7 linked regions of the Homo sapiens genome follow. The protein of the gene in region 7 interacts with the protein of the main gene of each other region in a pairwise test. Each region holds a gene or a part of one and is shown on either strand. Other genes may lie near its edges. The genes, in order: PLLP, FDCSP, TMEM97, CYBC1, C3orf52, RAET1L and MFF.

Evidence for each region.
Region 1: the proteins of MFF (region 7) and PLLP interact in binary tests that used the Homo sapiens proteins (3 or more experiments, as listed by UniProt).
Region 2: the proteins of MFF (region 7) and FDCSP interact in binary tests that used the Homo sapiens proteins (3 or more experiments, as listed by UniProt).
Region 3: the proteins of MFF (region 7) and TMEM97 interact in binary tests that used the Homo sapiens proteins (3 or more experiments, as listed by UniProt).
Region 4: the proteins of MFF (region 7) and CYBC1 interact in binary tests that used the Homo sapiens proteins (3 or more experiments, as listed by UniProt).
Region 5: the proteins of MFF (region 7) and C3orf52 interact in binary tests that used the Homo sapiens proteins (3 or more experiments, as listed by UniProt).
Region 6: the proteins of MFF (region 7) and RAET1L interact in binary tests that used the Homo sapiens proteins (3 or more experiments, as listed by UniProt).

The regions. Positions count from the first base shown.
Region 1 is NC_000016.10:57,278,173-57,281,672, forward strand, and holds part of PLLP (plasmolipin), read right to left. Parts: intron 1-3,500. UniProt on the Homo sapiens protein: Main component of the myelin sheath that plays an important role in myelin membrane biogenesis and myelination. Plays an essential function in apical endocytosis. Regulates epithelial development through the regulation of apical endocytosis.
Region 2 is NC_000004.12:70,224,721-70,228,923, forward strand, and holds the start of FDCSP (follicular dendritic cell secreted peptide precursor), read left to right. Parts: upstream 1-1,403; 5' UTR 1,404-1,462; intron 1,463-4,203. UniProt on the Homo sapiens protein: Can bind to the surface of B-lymphoma cells, but not T-lymphoma cells, consistent with a function as a secreted mediator acting upon B-cells.
Region 3 is NC_000017.11:28,322,200-28,325,692, forward strand, and holds part of TMEM97 (sigma intracellular receptor 2), read left to right. Parts: intron 1-3,303; coding exon 3,304-3,448; intron 3,449-3,493. UniProt on the Homo sapiens protein: Sigma-2 receptor which contributes to ameliorate dysfunctional cellular processes and slow degenerative progression by regulating cell functions including cholesterol biosynthesis/trafficking, membrane trafficking, autophagy, lipid membrane-bound protein trafficking, and receptor stabilization at the cell surface.
Region 4 is NC_000017.11:82,444,920-82,447,752, reverse strand, and holds part of CYBC1 (cytochrome b-245 chaperone 1), read left to right. Parts: intron 1-131; coding exon 132-173; intron 174-1,056; coding exon 1,057-1,130; intron 1,131-1,792; coding exon 1,793-1,889; intron 1,890-2,833. UniProt on the Homo sapiens protein: Functions as a chaperone necessary for a stable expression of the CYBA and CYBB subunits of the cytochrome b-245 heterodimer. Controls the phagocyte respiratory burst and is essential for innate immunity.
Region 5 is NC_000003.12:112,106,889-112,110,388, reverse strand, and holds part of C3orf52 (TPA-induced transmembrane protein), read right to left. Parts: intron 847-3,500; coding exon 776-846; intron 1-775. UniProt on the Homo sapiens protein: Has a role in LIPH-mediated synthesis of 2-acyl lysophosphatidic acid (LPA). LPA is a bioactive lipid mediator involved in different biological processes, and necessary to promote hair formation and growth.
Region 6 is NC_000006.12:150,020,184-150,022,532, reverse strand, and holds part of RAET1L (UL16-binding protein 6 precursor), read left to right. Parts: intron 1-289; coding exon 290-553; intron 554-1,346; coding exon 1,347-1,628; intron 1,629-2,293; coding exon 2,294-2,349. UniProt on the Homo sapiens protein: Binds and activates the KLRK1/NKG2D receptor, mediating natural killer cell cytotoxicity.
Region 7 is NC_000002.12:227,352,751-227,356,250, forward strand, and holds part of MFF (mitochondrial fission factor), read left to right. Parts: intron 1-2,926; coding exon 2,927-3,011; intron 3,012-3,500. UniProt on the Homo sapiens protein: Plays a role in mitochondrial and peroxisomal fission. Promotes the recruitment and association of the fission mediator dynamin-related protein 1 (DNM1L) to the mitochondrial surface.

The sequences.
Region 1 (3,500 bases), on a different chromosome or scaffold from region 7:
CTACTAAAAATACAATAATGAGTTGGGTGTAGTGGCAGGCACCTGTAGTCCCAGCTATTCGGGAGGCTGAGGCAGGAGAATGGCGTGAACCCGGGAGGCGGAGGTTGCAGTGAGCTGAGATTACGCCGCTGCACTCCAGCCTGGATGACAGAGCACAAGAAGAGCTCTCAGATGCACCAAGTATGAGAAAAGCAACTTGCTGAACAAAGGATACAGAATAAAACTATCAATGTTTTCAAAAGTGCACAGGAAAAAAGACTAGAAACACCCCAAATAGTTGTCCCCTTAGGGACAGAGGTGGGTAATCCAACTACAGCTTTAGTGTAATCTGTACAGGTTTTTTTATTTTGTGAGGAGAATGTATTCATATATTCATAATGTAATTACACATTAATTCCCAAACACTCAATACTCCCCCCCTTGCAGTAAGTGGGGAGTGTGGGGGGAACTAACAATACAAGGCATTTATTGCTCTGTGCAGTGGAGCTGGGTTGGATGAAGATATTGGGCATGCGGGGCCTGGAATGCTGTACTAAAAAGACTGAACCACCCACAAATCTCAGTGCTAAGGGAAGCCCCGGGAGTCTCAGACATTGCAATCCGAGTGTGACCAAGCCCTGCTCACACCTCACTCGGACTCCAACAATCTCATCTAGGTAGCCCCTTCCTGGAGACCAGAGTTGGCTTTCAGTCCCTGCCCTGCCCTTCATCTGCAGAGGAGCTGGTCTGCCTCCTGGGGCCGGAGACAGAGCCGGTATCACCATAAGGAAGAACTTTCCAACACTCCCAAGTGCCCAAGGATGGAGCAGGCAGCCTTAAGAAGAACTGAGCTCCCTGTCTCTGGAAGCATGCAAGTTCATGTTGGAGATGCTGCAAAGGCACCTCTTATGCTTGCATAAGAACCCTCGGATCCTATAACCCTGTGAATCCAAACTGTCCTTCATTCCCACATATAGTGCTAGGCTAGCTCTTTGCAGGCATGATCTAGATCCTGCCATCACCATCTGACAGACAAGGAAGTGAGGCTCAGGGAAATTTGGGAACTCCCCCAGGATCATGCAGCCAGAAAGGGACAGAGCCAGGATTTGAACCCAAGGCTCTCAGCGTCCAGGCCTGTGTTCCCATCAGCACTCTCCATGCCACCCCATGGATCATGGAGATCTAGGGAAGGCTTCTCTTCTTCTTCTTCCTTTTTTTTTTTTTTTGTTAAGAGTAGAGGACTGGGTACAGTGGCTCACACCTGTAATCTCAGCACTTTGGGAGGCCAAGGCAGGTGGATTGCTGGAGCCCAGGAGTTCGAGACCAGTCTGGGTAACATGATGAAATCCCATCTTTACAAAAAATATAAAAACTTAGCCAGGCATTGTGGCATGTACCTGTCGTCCCAGATACTCAGGAGGCCTGAAGTGGGAGGATCGTCTGAGCCTGGGAGGTTGAGGTTGCAGTGAGCTGTGATCACACTACTATAGTCCAGCCTGGGTGACAGAGCAAGACCTTGTCTCGAGGAAAAAAAAAAAAAAGTAGGGGTCTTACTCTGTCACCCAGGCTAGAGTGCAGTGACGTGATCATGGCTTACTGCAGCCTTAAACTCCAAGGCTCAAGCAATCTTCCTACCTCAGCCTCCCAAGTAGCTGGAACTACAGGCATGTGCCACCCTGCCACCTGCCTAGCTAGGTGAGGCTTTTGATCTGTTATTCACCTGCAAAGTGGGAATTGTGTGGCCACCCCCAATCCCAGGAGGTGGGGCAAAATGGAAGGACAGAAGGTACCAAACCAAATGGCCTTACCGCCACAGGGCATTCACACAGCTTCCACATCCTGGGCCTCAAGGACGCCTACTGACTGACAGGTCTCTGTACAAGCTCTGGTCTGTCCTGATCCTCCTTCTCCCTTCCTATGCCAGGAAGCCCTCCCTGATGGCCTTGGCCCCTGATGAGTCTCCCTTCCTGCAGTCCCCCTTTTCCCCCTAGAAAGCACTCTAGAACTTCCCACCCCCAAAGTAAACAAGATGAGGAAGCATAGCTAGAGCCAGGTTTTGGATTTCCAGATCGAAGTGCAAAGCCAAGCTTGCCACTCTATCCTGTGTGACCTTGGACAAGTTCCTCACCCTCTCGGAGCCTATTTACTTATCAGTAAATCCAGATAAGATCATCCTTCTCCCCACGGCTTGGGGAGGCTTGAAAAAATGAGAGATGGGCACCTAACAGCACTACTTTATACTTATTGTAAAAAGGCTTTGGGAGCTCCCCATAAGCAAATAACCACGCCTTCTGCATTCTTCCACCTGAGCTACACAAAAATCTGTAGCACTGATGCCTTTTTTTTTTAAAACCAAAAGAGTTATCTGTAGATCAAACTTGCCTGCCTTGTGACATGAATCCATTGGCAAGAGAAAACAAAACAAAACAAAACAAAGACCTGCCTCCTTTTTTAGACGCTATCTGCATAGATTCTTCATGTTTCCCTTTTTGCCTAGGCTGCTAGGAAGTTCAACAAATAATCAACAGCCTTAAACTTGCTGCAAGTCAATTCTCCCCTCCACACCACCAGCTTTTAAAGATACATCGCTTTAACTCTTCTGTCTTATGTGGTTTAATATCATATTCCATCTGGTGTTCTTTCTGAATCTACAAGGAATAACGATAGTGATAAATCAATGAACACCACCAGACATCTGTGAAGAATACTGAGATTGGTTCTTCAGGACACATTCTGATACCGAATGAAAAGTGTATCTCCTTCTCCAGGAGCTGGGAGCCTTTCTACCCACCTCCCCTTCCTCCCACCATACCAGGAACATTCATCAAATCCTGGGAAACAGAAGGGTTTGATGGAGAATTAGCTTCCATTTTCTCATTTATTTCCTGCTCCATGCAGCCTTCTCTGATCCCTCTGGGAGAAGCACATCCTCTGGGCACCTCTCTCACTGACCAAGAGCTCCTGGAAAGCAGGCTGTGGGCCCAGGGTCCCCACCACTCCCTCCATAATGACAGATCCTGGGAAGGTAGCAGCAAAGCCACACGTGGTCATTAAGACCATAGGCCAGAAAAGTCAGAAAAATCACTCCTGTGGAGGAGGGCTGTGAGATCTTGGGCAAAGAACTGGCCTCTGAGCCTCAGTTTTCTCACCTAAAATGGGGCCGACTAAGAAGATCTAAAGGCCTTGGCAAAGGGCCTGAGCCTAGTGCTGGCCTGATAGATGGGAGCTACCATGGCTTCCCAGCAGATGGTGGTGCCTGTTGGATTAACCCCCACATATCCCATTTCAGACCCAGTGGAACTACCTGTTGCCAGAGAAACAGCTCAGGATGCAGCTTCTCCAACAAGCAGATTTTTTTTTTATTTCTTTTTTTTTTTGAGACGGAGTCTCTTTCTGTCTCCCAGGCTGGAGTGCCGTGGCGCCATCTCGGCTCACTGCAAGCTCCACCTCCCGGGTTCACGCCATTCTCCCGCCTCAGCCTCCCGAGTAGCTGGGACTGCAGGCACCCACCACCATGCCAG
Region 2 (4,203 bases), on a different chromosome or scaffold from region 7:
GATAAAAGAAATTGAAGTAGAATAAATTGAACGACAGGTTTTAGGTAAGGAAATGGATAATACACACACACACACACACACACACACACACACACACACACACCTGTCATCCCCATCCCTGGGGAAATGTACTATGAGCCCCAAATTGGTCAAAATATGTACAATAACATAACAGGTTTAATATATTAAGTTTCTGATTCAGGCAGTTTTCTTTAAATCATTGAGATAAGATTAAACGTTGAGTTATAGGTGAAGGAAGTAGTTTAATGTTTCTCTGGCTTTGTGCTGATTTTTCTAACCTTCTGTTAACAGTGACAGTATAAGGCACCAGTTATAAATGTGGGTTTTAGAACCAAATTGCTGGTGCTCAATTCAATATCTGCCAGAGACTAGCTGTAATACCCAGACTGATTACTAATATTCTCTGCTTCTCAGTCTCAAAATGGGATGGTGTTGATCATAGTACTTTCCTCTTAAGGTGGTTGTTTGGGAGATTTAATTATATTATATATATAAAGCATTTAAATTTGTGCTTCAGCACTTAAAGTCCTCAAAAAAACTTACCTGCTATTATTTTTCTGAGTTGCCTTGAGAACTGAATTCTAGAAAAAATAAAAAGAAGAAAAGGGACTTTGATGCACTACTACTACAATCTGGACTATATAACCTCTTTTGAAGTAGAAATCGAACTCAATAACAGAATATTCTTAAAAGCTCTCGAATTAGTTAAAGCTCAAATTTTATGACTCTTGAAAAAGGCATATACAATATGCACGCATATTTAAGGTAATTCTTGAATGTTTTGTGGGCCCTAGTTTCTGTTCCCGCACTTAATAATGATACCTTTTCTGCTGTAAGTGAATTTTTAGTTGAGAAATAGAGTATAGTGTTCCATAAGGTAAACAAGATGCTGTGGTGCTCCAAAAATACAATTCACTCATCTACGAAGCTCTAATCCTGATAATAAAATGAAGAAGTTGAAAGAAGAATCATGCAAAAGATTTTAATCCCATCTTAAACAATTTTTAGATTTTTTATTTTCTTAAGATTCCAGCACTATCAAATATGCTTTGCAATAGGTTATAATCAATACCAGTAAAATGCTTAGAGGTATTTTAAATTGTGGGAAGTAAAGGAAAAAATTGTGAGAGTAGACAATGGAGCAACAACATGTAAAGTGATAAACTTCAAATATACAAGACACAAAATTTGGAGAAAAAAACCACAAAAGATTTTGGTATTTGGTAGTTTCTAGGAAACTAAACATTGGTTATTCCCCAATTTCAACATATTGAGATAGTTGATGAGTAATAACTGATCCTAGGGGAGAGGCCTTTAAGCCACAGATTTCTCCATTCCATTATACCTTTGAGTATATAAAACAGCTACAATATTCCAGGGCCAGTCACTTGCCATTTCTCATAACAGCGTCAGAGAGAAAGAACTGACTGAAACGTTTGAGGTAAGAAAGGTCTTAAATATCATTGTAAACTAAGATTGTATATCTATTTTGTAAATATAGATATATAGCATCTCTCCATATATTTTTCTTTAAATCATAAAAATTTTAATTGTTGAGACTAAATTGTAATGGTTGCTTGAATTTGTAGACTTAGTAATTAGAAAACCATTTTTAGTATTCTGTTTGCAAAACTTTTTTTAAAATCACCACCCTGCTGTAGTAAATATTTATTTTAGAGTGACCATAAATGAATCTTTCTAGGAGTGGAGCACTGGTGGGGGAGAGTGTGGACAGAGTGAAACAACAGAGCCTCAGGTTTATTTTTAAATTTGTGGCCATCAGGTCAGCAAACAGAGGGAATACGCCCCGCCAGAGATTCTCTAAAGTCTGAGCAAGTGCCAATTTCTTTGGCCTCCTCTTTTATCTTTAAAATATATACAGTACTTACATTCCATTCCATAACATTTTATGTTGATTTTAATATAAAAGTCATTTGTCTTTCCCATAAACTCTTGAATAAAATTAATTATCTAGGAAGATGCATCTGATTTATCTGGAGAATCATTTATTCTACAGCACGCAGCAATAAACTGCTATGGGTATCATGACTTGATAAGTATAAAAATAAAAGGAGATAGCTGGTAATTATGCTGTGTCCTGACTCTAAGATATGATCTGGAAGAGTCTGTAATGTGGATTATTTACTTATTTGCTTAATGTAGTTTTGAATAATTCTTGAAACCAGTTGAAAGAAATTATATTGTAAAGGCCCTGCTTGAATTCTATTCTCTCCAAAACTATTTTCTCAACCTGCCTCTTTCTTCTTCTAAATACTCAAAATATTTTGCAATTTCTACATATGGTATATATCACGCTTTTTTTTCACATTACAGAAATATCTGTATCCATCTTCCATGTGGAAGTCTCAAGTGGAAGAAATTATGCTTTATCATTGTATCCCTGAAAGCACCCAGCATTGTTGCTTTGCACATAGAAAGTGGACTATGTATATGTATGTGTGTGTCTGTGAGGAGTATGTGTGAGTGTGTGCATGTGTGTGTTTGTATAATTTTTACTCTTGATTTCCTACATTAACAATCTGCCTGTAGAAGTCTGAACTTGACCGGAATTTTACATTCCTGTCTTCTCAAAATTATTAGATTATCTGGTACTTTTTTGAATTTGAATTCAAATTTTGATTAGTATCAGAAAATAAAGGCAGAGATCAAAACTTTGCTACATTTTTTACACTGCGTTCTTTTGTCTCATAGATGTATAGGAAACATCAAAAGGTGATAAAATTTCCCTAGAATCTCCACTATCTCAAAGGTACTTCAAAATGATAATGATATTAAAAATTGACATTTTCCCCAATGTAAAATATTAAATTAAATAGTCTTTAAAAAGCTTTGTAATGTATTTACTTATAACAATGTAACAGTGAGCTTAAAAGATCCATAAATCAGGGACTTTCCAAACTGATATTACAGGCAAACTTCAGAGATACTGCAGGTTCAGTTCTTGACCACCACCATAGAATGAGTATCAAAGTTAGGCAGGTCAAATGAATTTCTTGGATTCCCAGTGTACATAAAAGTTATGATTACACTACAGCATTGTATGTTAAGTGTAATAGCAGTATGTCTAGAAAAACAACATACATATCTTAATTAAAACATACTTTATTGCTCAAAAATGCTAACAATTATCTCAGTCTTCACTGAGTCATAATCTTTTTGCTGGTGTAGGGTCTTGCCTTGATGTTGATGGCTGCTGAATGATCAGGGTGATGGTTCCTGAAGGCTAAGCTGGCTGTGGCAATTTCTTAAAATAAGTCAACAATGAAGTTTGACACACAGATTGACTCTTCCTTTCACAAAAGATTTCTCTGTAGCATGCGATGTTGTAGCATTTTGGAGCATGTGAAGCATTTTGCCCACAGTATTTCTTTCAAAATGGGACTCAACCCTTGCAAACCCTGCCACTGCTTTATCAATTAAGTTTATGTAGTATTTTAAATCATTTACTGTCATTTGAAAAATATTCACAGCATCTTCACCAGGAGTAGATTCCATCTCAAGAAACCACTTTCTTTGCTCATCCATAAGAAGCCATTTTTCATTCATTCAAGTTTTACCGTTAGATTGAAGCAATTAAGTCACATGTTCAAGCTTCACTTCTAATTCTAGTTCTCTTGCTATTTCCACCACATCTGCAAGTTACTTCCTCCACTGAAGTCTTGAATCCCTCAAAGTCATCCACAAGAGTTGGAATCAACTTCTCCCAAACTCCTGTAATGTTGATATTTTGGCCTCCTCCTATGAATCACAAATGGTCTTAATGGCATCTGGAGTGGTGTATATTTTACAGAAGGTTTTTAATTTACTTTGCCCAGATCCATCAAATAAATCACTATCTGTGCCAGCTATAGCCTTACAAAATGTATTTATTTAATAATGAAACCTGAAAGTCAAATTTACTCTTTGATCCATAGGCTGCAGAATGGATGTTGTGTTAGCAGGCATGAAAACAACATTCATCTCTTTGTACATCTGCTTCAGAGTTCTTGGGGGCTCAGGTACATTTTCAATGAATGGCAATATTTTGAAAAAAACATTTTTTCCTAAGAAGTGAGCTGAAAATATTAGTAAACCATGCTGTGTTAGATGTACTGCCATCCAGGCTTTGTTGTTCCATCCACAGAGCACAGGAAGAGTAGATTTAGTATAATTCTTAAGGGC
Region 3 (3,493 bases), on a different chromosome or scaffold from region 7:
GCTTGGAAAAACTCATTTTTTTATTTACTTTTTGTTTTTCTTTCTTTTTTTTTTTTGATTTTGTTTTTGAGACAGTCTCTTGTCGCCCAGGCTGTAGTGCAGTGGTGCAATCTCGGCTCACTGCAACCTCTGCCTCTCGGGTTCAAGCAATTCTCCTGCCTCAGCATCCCAAATAGCTGGGATTACAGGTGCTTGCCACAACGCCTGGCTAATTTTTATATTTTGTTATAGATGGTGTTTCACCATGTTGGCCAGGCTGGTCTCAAACTCCTGACCTCAAGCGATCTGCATGCCTCAGCCTCCCAAAGTGCTGGGATTACAGGTGTGAACCACCACGCCTGGCCTGGAAAAACTCTTATTTTATTATGAAACAGTAAGAATTTAGTTTGGATAAGAACATGGTAAGGAGAGGATGGGAAGCATTTTGTAGTATCATTTGCAGCTGGGTAACATTGCTTCTGGTAAAAATAAGGAAAAACAAGTGAGCATCTGGCTCTGAAATCAGTCTGTGTTCCCATTCTAAATTATAGAAGTACAAGATTGGTGAGTAGCAACCACTGGTTTAGAGATCGTGCGTGCAGGCCAGGTGAATCTTTTATGTATAACAAGGGTGGGTTGAGTCAAATAGAGTCAGGTATAAGTGGAAACAGTTTCATTACCTTTGGTAGGGAGGCCATAACTAATAATTTTTAATGACCAGTCGTGAGCTGCGATTTTAATGGGATTAAACTTGAATATCTCCAAATATGTATTAATTACATTCAATTAATCATTATGTGCTAGCCATTATTTTAAAGACTACATGTATTAAGTCACTCTCTTACCAATAGTGAAGTAGGCACTATTACTGGCTCTATTTTATTGATGGGGACACAAGTGTAGGGAGATTAAAGGCCTTGCCTAAAGCCAGGCACTCTACCCCAGGTCCTACACGCCTCACCCATCTGCCAGGTGCCTGGGCTTTCTACTCTCCTACTCACAATTAGTCCCAGCCTCATTCTGGCATCAGGTGGCAGGTATATGACTGTGGGCAGATGGTTGGTTACGATTATGATAATTCATTATTACGACATCTGGGTGATTGTTTTTTAAATTTTGCTGATCTCATCTTGTAGGCCTTAGAAATTAAAGTGCTGTACAAGTCTGCCTCAGTTTATGAAATAGTTGGATCAGAGAGGTTGTAAACAAATTGAATAGAAAGTGAAGTTCAAATGGCCAGAATGCCTTTTTTTTTTTTTAATTTTTTTTTGAGATGGAGTCTCGCTCTGTCACCCAGGCCGGAGTGCAGTGGCTCGATCTCGGCTCACTGCAACCTCAGCCTCCAGAGTTGCTAGGATTACAGGCGTGAGCCACCACACCCAGCTAATTTTTGTATTTTTAGTAGAGACGAGGTTTCACCATGTTGGCCAGGCTGGTCTCAAACTCCTGACCTCAGGTGATCCACCCGCCTTGACCTCCCAAAGTGCTGGGATTATAGGCATGAGCCACCGGGCCTGGCCCAGAATGCCTCTTAAATTTTGCAGTCAGGCCGGGTGCAGTGGCTCACACCTGTAATCCCAGCACTTTGGGAGGCTGAAGCGAGGATCGCTTGTGCCCAGGAGTTCGAAACCAGCCTGGGCAATGTGGCAAAACCCCGTCTCTACAGAAAATTAGCTGGGCTTGGTGGCGCATACCTGTAGTCCCAGCTACTGGGGAAGCTGAGGTGACAGAATCATCTGAGCCCGGGATGTTGAGGCTGCAGTGGGCCGAGATCAAATCACCACACTCCACCAGCCTGGGCAACAGAGACTGTCTCAAAAAAAATAATAATAATTTTATAGTCAATCTTTTAAAGCAGGTAGTGTCATCCAGTATTTTTAAAAATCTAAAAAGCAAAAAAGGGATCTTAAGAAAACATCTAGTCCAAGTTGCTCATTTTACAGATGAGGAAGTAGAACCCTGGAGAGGGACAGTGACTTAGCCTTTGTGTTTCTTATCAATTCAATCCTATTCAAACCACATTCCCATCCAGAAAAGTGCTTAGAAGGAAGCGAAGGGCATTGCTATGAATTTCAATTTCAAATTAAGTACAAATTTGGATATCCTTTGGTCAATAAATTGGTTATCTAGCCAAAGCCTTTCTGAAATTAATAATATGCTAACAGGATATTTGTTTCTGGATGTTTGCTTAAAGTGCTCTTGCAGCAGTGGGGCTTCTATTTCACAATAGCGAGGCTTTATCTTTTGATTAAAAATTAACAGGAAAAATATTCTTGGATTTTCCATTGTAAGTAAGATAAATTCTTACCCTGGAGTTGCCTTTATTAATCATAATATCAAGACTTATTTGTCTTTGAAGGCCTGTGTGTCAGGGCAGCGCCACATCTAGGAGGTTAAATGTGACAAACGTTTAGTAGTCCACATAGAGCCAAGAGCACTAGGCTTTGGGCTCCTATAAAAGCCCAAGATGGGAAGCCTTAAACTCTGCTTCTTTTCTCTGCCTGTAGCCAGGTCAGCATGGATCCGCATCCTTTTTATTTGACAAGGTAATTACAAGCGTGGGGCCCAAGCTAGAACTGAGACGCTAAAACCCTGCATAACCAAGAAGCTACTAGGTAGTTTGTAGTTTGGGGCAGAGTTTGTTCTTCCACTAAAATCCTGTCTCCTAAAATAAACCAAAAATTAGAATTAGGGGAGTTAAGGAACTTGTTTGTCATATTGGAATTAAAGTGTCCAAAATTACATCGCCACAGAGGTTAGATTTACTTCCCCTTTCACTCCCACCCCCACCCCGCAAAAAGAAGAGGGAAATTCAATTCATTTCTGCATTTGAGGGAATCTGGCCTTTGGAGGAGTTTGGTGTGTAGTTGCCATTACAAAAGGGAAAGTGTCAGGATGGTTTTCATGTGTATTTGTTTTTTTAAACAAAGAATGATATTGTTGACAGAAATGTCACATTTGTTCATTCAGCGAACACCCTGAGTGCCTACCAAGTGCCAGATACTTATTGTTGCTCCTGACAGTGGCCAACACACCTGGATGTGTTATCTTGGAATTATGAACAGATTCTGGGTAACACAAAGAAGGGGCTGGAAGAGTTGAGAAAATTTCAGAGAAGGGAACATTTGAGTTAGGGATAGTAAGTTTTTATTAAATGACCACCTAGGCTGTGTCACAAAAGCCAGCTGGACATGCCATCTGCTGCCGGGGTAGTGGGGGGTGGCTAATTAATGACAGGCTCCTCCAGTGTATTTTCAAATGAGCTAGCGCCGAGCCTGTTGAGGGCAAGTGGCTGTAATTCATCATGATCGTTTTCTTTTTCAGTTTAGAAACCTGCTGAAGTGGTATGCTAAGGAGTTCAAAGACCCACTGCTACAGGAGCCCCCAGCCTGGTTTAAGTCCTTTCTGTTTTGCGAGCTTGTGTTTCAGCTGCCTTTCTTTCCCATTGCAACGTATGCCTTCCTCAAAGGTTGGTAAATGGTGGGAAAATCCCATTTTTACTCAGAAATCAGGT
Region 4 (2,833 bases), on a different chromosome or scaffold from region 7:
AACCCCTGACCACAGCTGTTCCTACAGTGGGAAGGGCCTGCTCATCAGGGGCTGTGGCTCCTGGTCCCGCTGCACCAGGGAGGTGGGGTCTTACCGGGATCAATAGGCAGGCAGTCACTTTCTCTTCATAGGAATCTTGTCGATTGGCCTGGCTGCTGCCTACTACAGCGGAGGTAAAGCACCCCCCGCCCCACCCCCCCATGACTGTCTCAGCTGTTTGGAAAACAGAGAAAAGAAGGAAAAACTGTCATTTGTGACTGTCCATGGGGCGGCCTTTAGGATCGGCACCTCTGCCCCTTGATTGCTGGCGGGCACCGCGCCCTCCATGCGCTGCTGTTCTTCCGCACGCCCATCCTGCCCAGCGCTCAGCCCACATTTCACTTCTTTTTTTTTTTTTTTTGAGACGGAGTCTCGCTCTGTCACCCAGGCTGGAGTGCAGTGGCGGGATCTCGGCTCACTGCAAGCTCCGCCTCCCGGGTTCACGCCATTCTCCTGCCTCAGCCTCCCAAGTAGCTGGGACTACAGGCGCCCGCCACTACGCCCGGCTAATTTTTTGTATTTTTAGTAGAGACGGGGTTTCACCGTTTTAGCCGGGATGGTCTCGATCTCCTGACCTCGTGATCCGCCCGCCTCGGCCTCCCAAAGTGCTGGGATTACAGGCGTGAGCCACTGCGCCCGGCCACATTTCACTTCTTAAGTCTTCTGTGTTTTTGGGTCATCAAATATTCCCGGAGAGATGCTCTTGAGGATCTAAGATCCAGCTGTGGGATGAGGTGTACTTCCCACCCTGCCACAATCACTGGGCCTGCCCAGACGGGCAGAGGCCCTGTGCGCCCCACCTGCCTCTCTCACGTGGACTCTGGGGGTCAGAGCTGGGTGGGGTGTGCCGCGTGTGGGTCCTGAGTGGCCAGGGCAGGGTCAGCAGCACAGGAAGCTGCCCAGGGGGTCCTTGCAAGCGTGGGCTCTGGCCAGCGTCTGGGGGAGGCTGTGCTAGGCGGGGCCTCCCGTGGGCATGTCCCTGGAGCTCACAGGCTGGCGCCCTATGCCCATCTCCAGATAGCCTGGGCTGGAAGCTCTTCTACGTCACAGGCTGCCTGTTTGTGGCTGTGCAGAACTTGGAGGACTGGGAGGTAAGGCCGGCTCGGGTGCGGGACAGAGTCCAGGGCTGTTCAGCTCCTGGGTTTTTTGCAATGGGAATGAAAGGAGGAGGAAGGGCCCTGGGTGGCCTAGCGCCTCCCCGTCCTGAAGCGTTGGTCCCTGCTTGGAGGTCTCCGTTCATCAGGACATGGCCCCTGCACTCATCTGGGACCGTTCTTGGCCAAGGAATTCCCCGAAGGCATTTTTCTCTTAGAAGCTCTCCATGACTATCTTCACCAAAGTGCTTTCTTCCCAGAGTTGCCACAATGGGATGCGAGTCAGCTTTCCCCGTGGCCGGCCCTCCCACCTCGGAGCCCCTCATGAGTCCTTTCAGCCTGGCCCAGTGCTGCCCTCTGACCTCCATGCCCTCGTTTGCTGGTTCCACTGCCTCCCTGCACTTGTTTTGCCTGCAGGGTGGAGCAAGCGCCTGCTGCACCTGCCCACCTCTCCATTTCCCAACAGGAGTCGGGTTGGCTGCCGATATCCGGCTCTGACAGAGCAGCACCTGTGGCTTCAGGGGTTTGGGTTCTGACTGGGAGGGTCCCCAGCCCCCCTTCTTGAGTGTCCACCCTGGTGAGGGTGGGGGTGAGGCCCCAGCGGCCACGGGGCCCCCGTTCCTGGAGGTTCATGGTGGTCAGTGCATGTCGGTTTCCAGGAAGCCATCTTCGACAAGAGCACAGGGAAGGTTGTTTTGAAGACGTTCAGCCTCTACAAGAAGCTGCTGACTCTTTTCAGAGCTGGCCACGACCAGGGTGAGTCGTGGGGAGCGTGGGGACATGGGACACGGCCACAGAGGCGGCGCACTTGGGCGTCTGGGTGACTCACGGGGCCTAGAGGGGGGCCTGGAAGTGCCTTTGGTCCAAGCTCACCTGCTTGGTGACCAGGGTTGTGTCCTGCCCGCTGGAAGCAGGATCCCACGGATACGCCCCACCTGCTCACCTGCTCAGCAGGGTCCTAGAGCCTCCTGGGTTCTTTAGAGGTTTGGCCCCTGGGGAGAGTGGGAGGAGCAGGGGTCTGAGGAGCAGGGGTCTGGCAGAGCAGGGGTCTGAGGAGCAGGGGTCTGGCCCACCCGGGCTCGGGCAGCCTCTGTTTAGCTGCATTCTCCCGTCTGCCTGGCAGCCACTTGTCCGCAGGTGCAGTCTGGCCCCAGCGGCAGGTCACAGGACGGGGCAGGGAGAGCCATGGCAGCCCGTGGGCGTTCTGGAGTGGGGCCACCTGGCTTCTTGCGGGCCTTGGCGCTGCTCCAGCTTTCCTGTGGGTTCTACTGGGCCTGCAGTAGGGGCTGGATGGTCCGAGGAACTCCCCACCCTTGAGCCTGGGCACTGGCCCAGCTGTGGTCAGTACCAGTTTCCTGTAGATGCTGCCGCACAGACAGACAGAGGCCCCGGGGTCCGGCCGCCCATGCATAGCCCCAGAGGGGACAGATTCTGGCGACCAGAGTTGCTGGGCAGTCTTGGGTTTAGTGCCGCAATGCTGCACTTCTGACAGGCTGCTTCCTGGATCCCTGCAGGGACCTGGCCAGGGCATTGGCCCCAGGTCACCTGTGGCTTTGGGGAGAGCAGTTGCAGGGCTGGCCTGGGCTGTGGGAGGCAGCTGTGCCGTTTTCTGACAGCCATTGGGACCGCCCCAGTACCCGAAGAGGTGGCTGCCCTGAGTTGCCACGGGAAACTGCAGGGTGGCCCTGGCTCAGCAGCCA
Region 5 (3,500 bases), on a different chromosome or scaffold from region 7:
CTTTTCCTGTGCATACCTCTTTATGTCTTCTTTTTTTTATTTTTATTTATTTTTATTTTTTTGACAGAGTCTCACTCTGTCACTCAGGCTGGAGTGCAGTGGCGCAATCTCGGCTCACTGCAACCTCCCCTCCCGAATTCAAGAGATTCTCCTGCCTCAGCCTCCTGAGTAGCTGGGATTAGAGGCACCCACCAACACACCTGGCTAATTTTTGTATTTTTAGTTGAGACAGGGTTTCACCACGTTGGCCAGGCTAGTCTTGAACTCCTGACCTCAAGTGATCTGCCCGCCTTGGCCTCGCAAAGTGCTGGGATTACAGGCGTGAGCTACCACGCCCGGCCCCTCTTTACATCTTTAATACTAAACAAGGAGAATGTACTCCTGTATTACTTGTGCTCCTCAAAAGCAAATGCCTATACATGTATCACTCGCATCACAGCACGACCTGAGATCTATTTCTACTTCTACCCTTAGCTTATTTGAGCATTCATTGTTAAACAGAAATGGTTTACCTGGGACTGGCTTTTCCCCTCTTCTGTGTGACCCTGGTTGAATTATACCATTAATCTGGGCTTCCTTTTTCTCATTTGTAAAATAAGGGAGTTGAGCCTGTTGGTGTAAAAGACCTTCCCAGCACTGACATTCTGTGATTCTATTACAGGTTCCCTTCATGCTCTGAGGCTCTGGGAATCCCTGCTAGGTAAATGACGAAGGGTGGGGTGGGGGGATCTCTTTCCAGAGAAAGAGAGCAAAATGTAATGTTCCACACTCTTACCTGAAGTCCACTATTTCAACTGAAGTAAAATAACGACCCAGAGAGGGCGATGTACTGTACACATCTGTGAGCTAAACAAACAGAAGCAAATTAAACCACACACATTACCGACAGATCATATTACACATCACCTGACAAAGCAAAACTGCTTCTAAGGCAGAGGAGATTCCACTCCAGCCTGGAATCAACGTTATCTGGAAGCTCTGGATCAAGAATTGAGCCCACCATAAATCAAAACTCAAGTTAATGCTACTTCAAAAGAACTCCATTTATAAGGACCAAATGACTCAGTTTCTCTCAGAAGTTGCACTGGCACCCTGTGGCCTTAGTGGTGAGAATATCAGCAGCTGGAGCCCACACAGGCCTCACAGACCATAGGAAGGAGAGAAGAGAAGACCCCAAAATGGCTGCTGGACAGCAGCAGCACAGACCACTTAGCACCTGGGACATTGCTTAGCCCAGGGCTTCTTTCTCCCTTCTCCAGAGCTTCAGTGTAAAGACAAACAGCCATGCTAAGCCATGGGTCTAGCACATCCCCTGGACAAAGAGACAAAGAGGGGAACTGCAAAAATATGGAGGCTTTATTTTATGCATGAAATATTGCAAGCATCATAAAAAATAATGACACCTGTGTTTCCACTACCTAGCTTTCATGTCTTCATATTTGCTATATTGGGTTCAGCCCTTTAATTTAAGAAACAAAATAAAGCTAAAGTGACTCCTACATACTATTCAGTTCCTCCTCTCTCTCTTTCTTAATACTAACCATCATTCTGAAGCTGGCATGCATCCTTTCCTTGCATATTTTTACAAATTACTACTTATTTATGTAATCATAACAAAATATAATTTGTGTTTTTATTCAAATAAAAGGCACCATATTCTACATAATCTTCTAAAACTTGCCTTTTTTCACTCAAAATTACATTTAAGATTTACCCATAAAGTAAATCTCAATGAAAGGCATTCACCTAACTCCTGCACAGATTCCTTTAAATGAGTATACCAGCCTATCCATTCCTCTGATGATGATCACATGCACTATTCTCAATTTTCCCCATCACAACTTATGCTGAAGCAATCATCCTTAATGTCTCCATGCATCTCTTCTTGGACATGCGGGAGTTTCCAATGGGCATATGCCAAGAAAAGGAATTGTTGGGTTTAAGGGTAGGTGCATCTCCAACTTCACAAAATTGTTCTCCCTTTCCCACCCCTCCCAGCAATGTATAAATATCCATTTCCCACATCCTTACCAGCACTTAGTGTTACCAAACTTAAATTTTTACCACTCCGAGGAGTATAAAATAGTGCTTCACATTGTTTTAATTTGTACTGCCTCGCTTACTAGTGAGGTTGAACATCTTTTCATGTTTATTAACTCTTTGGGACTTTTCATCTCTGAATTTCTCACTCATTTCCTTTCCTTCTCTTGGCTTATCTGTCTTTTTCTTATCTATCTGAAGTGGTTAGTTTTATATTCTGGATACTAGTTGTTGATATTATGTTACAAGTATCTTTTCCCAGGCATTGAGTAGTTGTGTTTCAGATATCTGAATCCTAAACTAGTAGTACTAGGAACATGTGCCATCCCCAGCTACAGCCATTATGGCTTAATGACCTATTACTTTATTCAATAACAAGCAGTCGAACATACAAAAAACAGCAGTGCCCTATGGGGAGCTTACCCTGTTTCCCCTCAACTCCAAATGGAATGTCAAGGACGCTGCACTTCCACAATACACTCCCATTTAACTCAACATGTACAACCCATATCTCAAAGAGAACAAAAGATGAGAGTGCCTGCTATTTCTGCTCTTCTAATCTTGTCACTACTGTTGTGATCTTTATAAAAACCTGGCAAAACAGGCATTAATATATCTCCCCTTTTTACTGGAAAATTAAACAGCACTCCATTCCATGAGATGAAGAAAACCTGTCCCAGGTCACTGTGCTAGTAAAAGGAGAAGCCAAAATTCAATCCTACATGTTATGAACACTAAAAACCAGCTTCTTCCCATCTGACCACACTACCCAGTGAAGAAGAAATTGATATATATACAGTGAAGGAAAGTGTCTCCTGAATATCAAGGAGGAAAGAAGCTTAAAGTGACAAAAACTTTCGGAGAAAATGACTGAGTCATTGTACAGCTCTTAAGCCCCAATGCACAGGATGTTGCCGATAGGCTGACAGTCATTTAGAAAACTCGGGAACTAGGAAAGCAGCTTTCACGGGGATGCTGTGATGGAGAGGAGGATGAGGATGCTGCAGAGGAGAATCTTTTCAAGCACTAATGTCAAGCACTCATGTCTTTCTCTTCCTTTTGGATTGAGCTTCCTATGGCAAAGGTGATATTTATCCTTCCTTCCAGTCTTCTCTGCTTCCTCCTTCCCTTCTTTCCTTTATTAATCTTTAGGGCCCAGCACAGTGTTTTGCACATAACAGGCTTTCAGCAAATTTTTAAGTTAAAATTTTAAGGTAACATATGGAGTGGTCGACTAAATCATTTTTAGTGTTCACTCGAAGATTCTTTTTGATCATGCTCCTCTGCTGTACTTAGGACATATTTACATTTGGGGAGCTGTTAGTCACACTGTCCACTTTGGGCCCAAAGAAGTGAAATAGGGTGGTTCCTCAACCCTTAGTCTTGTGTCTCCCACACAATGTCTATGAGGCTTGGTGCAAACTGAGCAAGGAGCTCAGCGAATTGATTAGCTGAGTCTG
Region 6 (2,349 bases), on a different chromosome or scaffold from region 7:
CCTTTCTAGCAAGGTCATGTGTTGACTGATGTGGGCAGAGGGGCAGTGGGACATGTCTGGGGACATGTGGTTTCTCAGCAGACAGAGACTTCCTCCTCCTCCTCCTCCTTGTCCTCATGCAAGGGGCGAGCACTCGCCTTAAACTTGTAGACACCACAGTTCTGGAGGGGGCACTCCTTCCTGGGCCAGCCCAGCCTGCCAGAGGCATCCTCTTATTGACACAGCGTGGAGGGGGGCTAACTAGGGGTCTTTTCCTCCCCACCCACCCCTCACCTGCCTTTCTCCACAGACCCTCACTCTCTTTGCTATGACATCACCGTCATCCCTAAGTTCAGACCTGGACCACGGTGGTGTGCGGTTCAAGGCCAGGTGGATGAAAAGACTTTTCTTCACTATGACTGTGGCAACAAGACAGTCACACCCGTCAGTCCCCTGGGGAAGAAACTAAATGTCACAATGGCCTGGAAAGCACAGAACCCAGTACTGAGAGAGGTGGTGGACATACTTACAGAGCAACTGCTTGACATTCAGCTGGAGAATTACACACCCAAGGGTAAGTTTCAGATGGCCCAGGACAGCAGGGAGCAGATACAGTGGTAGGTTAGAGGCATTTATAGTTTTCATGTAAAAATACAAAAGGGTCCTGGGCACGGTGGCTCACGCCTGTAGTCCCAGCACTTTGTGAGGTAGAGGTGGGCCGATCACAAGGTCAGGAATTCGAGACCGCCTGACCAACATAGTGAAACACTGTCTCTACCGAAATGCAAAAATTAGCCAGGCATGGTGGCGCATGCCTGTAATCCCAGCAACTTGGGAGGCTGAGGCAGGAGGATCCCTTGAACCCGGCAGGCAGACGCTGCAGTGAGCCGAGGTGGTGCCATTGCACTCCAGCCTGGGCAACAGAGTGAGACTTTGTCTCAAAAAAAAAAAAAAAAGCCAGGTGCAGTGGCTCAAGCCTGTAATCCCAGCATTTTGGGAGGCTGAGGTAGGCGGATCACAAGGTCAAGAGATCGAGACCATCCTGGTTAACACAGTGAAACCCTGTCTGTACTAAAAATACAAAAAAATAGCCGGGTATGGTGGCGGGCGCCTGTAGTCCTAGCTACTTAGGAGGCTGAGTGAGCCGAGATCGCGCCACTGCACTCCATCCAGCCTGGGTGACAGAGCGAGACCCTTTCTCAAAAAAAAAAAAAAAAATACAAATGGGAAGGTCATCTTACCCCTCAAGAGTCTAGAGGCAAGGCCAAGATGTAGCAGAGAGAGTAAGGCCAGCAAATTGTAAGGGGAACAGGATGGGGGTGCAAAATTTGTCAAGATCAGAGCTGATCTCTCTCTGATGGGGGCAGAACCCCTCACCCTGCAGGCAAGGATGTCTTGTGAGCAGAAAGCTGAAGGACACAGCAGTGGATCTTGGCAGTTCAGTATCGATGGACAGACCTTCCTACTCTTTGACTCAGAGAAGAGAATGTGGACAACGGTTCATCCTGGAGCCAGAAAGATGAAAGAAAAGTGGGAGAATGACAAGGATGTGGCCATGTCCTTCCATTACATCTCAATGGGAGACTGCATAGGATGGCTTGAGGACTTCTTGATGGGCATGGACAGCACCCTGGAGCCAAGTGCAGGAGGTAACAGGAGAAAAAGAAACGGGGATCTTAAATGAGATCAGAAATGGGGATCTCAAGAAGTTAGTTCTTGAGTTCAGCTTCAATCATCCCAGTGTACACGTTTATGTTAAAATGACCTCCTCGTCGGGCCCTCCTCCTGGGGTTACTGGCATGCCTGTGCCCTCCCACCCTCCTCTTCCTTCTCCCTCCTGACTCCTATTCCTCACTGCACTTGCTTCTGCTCCCCACACTGTGGATTTCTCACCAGCCTTGAAACTGCAGGTGTCACTGTTTTCAGAACTTTTTCCTTAGTGTTTCCTCTTTTGAGAATCACTTTTCCTTTCCTTTCCCTGGTCTGGTTCTGGAAATCCATCAAAACCACTTCCAACACCAGCCAGAGATCCTCCCCTCCCCAACTCTGGGGCATCACCTCCTCTTCCCCCACAGCAGGAGGGTGGGGTGTGTTGTCACCTTGCTTCCCTCAGCAGCTGTGTGAGCTCCCTGAGGACAAGACACACCCCGTCTCCCTTCCTAAGCCAGGACCTGTCATACTGGCTGCCCCACACCAGGGGGGAGGGGACAAAACTTTTGCCTTCCAGGATGACCTAGGGTGGCAGGAACTGAGGAGGTGTCTCCTCAGATTTGGGGCCTGGACAAGGGTTGTCACTTTTGTGTTTCCATTTCAGCACCACTCGCCATGTCCTCAGGCACAACCCAACTCAGGGCCACAGCCACCACCCTC
Region 7 (3,500 bases):
GGCCAATTAGTATGAGGGAAAATGTTTAATAATTATGGTATGATGTGAACAGCTATTTTATTTAAGTGTAGTGTTAATAGTTTATAGGTGGTTTATAATAATTTACATGCTAAAACAGAAAAAAGTCTTAAATCTTATTTTATGTACATCATTTTAATGGTTGCCTGAATTGTGCCCAGCATTTCCTTTTAAGTTGTTAATTATCTGGAATGTTACTTTTAGTGTGTGAACAAACCTGTCTTTGTTTGTAAGGCTTCATCTTAAATTGGGAGAAATCAGCATTAACAACTCCACAGTTTGGGAAGGTACATATTTAGAAAGGAAATTTAGTTTTAAGCATTTTTATCATCTGTTGATTTAAGGCCTTCTCTCTTATTTTTGCCCTTTTTACACTTTCAGACACGCGTAGGTTGAGCGTTCCTTTCTTCCTGACACGCACAGAGGCTGGCAGAATGGCACATACAAATACATGCAGTTCTTAAGTGCCAAAATCCCCATTTAGTTTTCCTATAGTCTGGAAAAAATCAAAAACTTGTTGGTATTCACAGATGCTATTACTGTATAATTTTTTCAGTCAGTTTTATTTAAGCAGAAATATATTGTCGGTAGCAGTAGATTTAAAACTGGCAGCATCGTTTCTGTGCTTAGAAGTTGGTGCATTCATTGAAGCAAGAGAAAAGGGAAGCATTAGCTGCTCATTAAAATTGAATTCATGGTGGAGGAATTGAAAAGCGTGCCTGTGGTAATCCCTTACCACTCTGCTGACTTGTTTCTTTTTACAATCTTAGTTCAGTTCATTGTCGTTTTCCCTTATATTTTTCTCTAAGTTTGTGATCTTTTATCTTTCTGTCAGAGTATTTTCAGCCAGTGGTCTAACTTAGCATTAGAGTTTTTTAGTTCTAATAAATACGGTTTTTGTTTAAAACACAATGTAAAGTAACATATTTTTGTTTTAAATTGAAGTATATAGGTAAAATCTTTTGTCATATCCTTATATTTCTTTGCAAATCGAGATTTCAGATATCTAAACCTTAGTTAATTCAGGATATAAATTGTGAGTAATCGCTTTCATTTGTACTTCATTCTGTATGTTCAGTTCAGATCCCTTTAACAATTGCTTCTGTTTGATTTTTTTCCTAATTATTCCTCTGTTATGTGGCCTCAGAGAAAGAGAAGAGTTTTATTTTGAGGATGAAGTGAAGGAAAAGGGAATCTTCTACCTTTATTTTTTCCACTAATCATTTGTAAACCCATAGTTCCAGCATCTACTAACTTAGAAGTTTACTTCTCTAACTGGTATAATTACCCTAACTGCTCCAGGTTGTTTACTGTGTTCTCATGAAATAAGGAGACAGTTAATGAGAAAGCAGGATAATTTAGCCATAGAAGGAATATTTGGAGATGGTTGTAGATTATCTAGAGTCAGTACACACCATCTATTGTTTAAGGTTTTTTGCATACTTTATTAAAGTATTTTTATTACTTTTAACAATATTTAAAACAAAAGGATTTTCTGAGTAGACTTGTCTTTAACATGTCTGGATGAAAAGTATAATTCTGCTTCATATCCCTTTTTGTGGGTATGTACTTTTTGTAGTGGGGACTTGCTGGGATAGGTATTAGAATAGATGATCCATTTGCCAATTCTCTGGACTACACAGGAATAACTTTTAATTTAGTTTATTTATATTCTGCTCATTTAGAAAATTTACTATGCCATTTTACTAAAATAACCATTTAGGGTATAAAATACATGTGAGGTGAATTATGTGGTTATATAAGTTGTATCTCAATGAAGCTATTAATTAAACTAAATTTTAAAATGTGGAAATCCAGGCAAAGAAGAGGAATGGCGTTTGTCTTTGTTTTTCAGAGGTTTAGTGTCATTCACCTAGAAATTAGTGCCGCTTTAGAAGTAACTACATTGGAACAAAAAGTACTTTTTTAATATGCTTTCTCTGGATTTTGTCTTAATGGTTTTTCAGTATTATTTTATACACAGCATTTTATTCATTATTGGGCCAATTCTGGAGCTAAATGTAGTGGTAAGATGTATTCAGGAGATTTTATAATTGTTTCTGCGGGAGAACACAGTAGAGCATAAGTAATTGGAAATAAGTAAAGAATAGGCCAGGCGTGGTTGCTCAGGCCTGTAATCCCAGCAATTTAGGAGGCTGAGGTGGGTGGATCACCTGAGGTCAGGACTTTGAGACCAGCCTGGCCAAAATGGTGAAACCCCATCTCTACTAAAAGTACAAAAATTAGCCGGGCATGGTGGCAGGTGCCTGTAATTCCAGCTACTTGGGAGGCTGAGGTAGGAGAATCACTTGAACCCCAGAGGTGGAGGTTGCAATGAGCCGAGATTGTGCCATTGCACTCCAGCCTGGGCAACAAAAGTGAAACTCTGTCTCAAAAAAATAAAAAGACAAGAAGTAAAGAATAAAAATGGCAAGACAAGAGGCAGTGAGAAGAGGTGATGAGTCTTTCTTTTTTTAGAGTTAGTCTACTTTGTGTTCCCTGCTAGTGAGTCTGTGCCTATGGGCTTACATATGGACATAAGTTTGTGTAAGAATTATATTTTGTTCTATCCTAAGTGGCAGCTCTCAAACCTTTTCAGCCAGGGACCCTTTTTAGCATCGCCAATCCTTCTGGCTTGAGAATTTTCTATGTGTTTCTTTAGTCAGGATTTTTTTCCCATTCTCCAGTTTTTAGTGCCCTTTTTCAATATTGTAGACAGTTGTCATTTTAAGCTTTTTTCTTTCCTTTATTAGTACAAATTCAGGTAGTAAAATATTTTAGTAATTCATATTATTAAGTACCAATTTTCTGAATACTACTTTGAGCATTACACAAAGCATGATGTGGCGTGCCATTTACTCTGAGTTCTACTTTACTATTCATTTGTATTTCTATCTCTTATCTGCAGGTATGGCATTTCAAATATAGATACAACCATTGAAGGAACGTCAGATGACCTGACTGTTGTAGATGCAGCTTCACTAAGACGACAGGTATTTAGTGTACCAAATAAGATATATTTCTCAGTTATATTCATACAATATTTTAAAGTGATAGTTCTCAACATTTTATTATTTTCTCTCCTGTGGGACTATCAAACTAGTAAGCCATCATTGATTTTCTCATTTTGATTAAAGATATATTAAACTACCATTTACATGTTTTGATCACCGTAAAACAGTATTACCAAGATAGATTAATGTAATTCTGGCCAGTAACAAAGAATCTTTAGCAAACCAGTACAGCCATCAGTTGCTTGTTTGGCTTTTGAAATGTGGAACAATTACTTTGGAACCTTTGTTACTGTGTTTAATAACTCCATTTTGGAAACCGCTCCTTGCAGCTTGCACAGCATCCCTGCATACGTATTTCCTGTATTCTGTAATAAATCCTTTCTTAGAACTGCAGTTGCACATGCATATTTTTTAATATGTACTCCCACAGCCTCGAGTATCACACAGACATACACACATGTGAAGAAG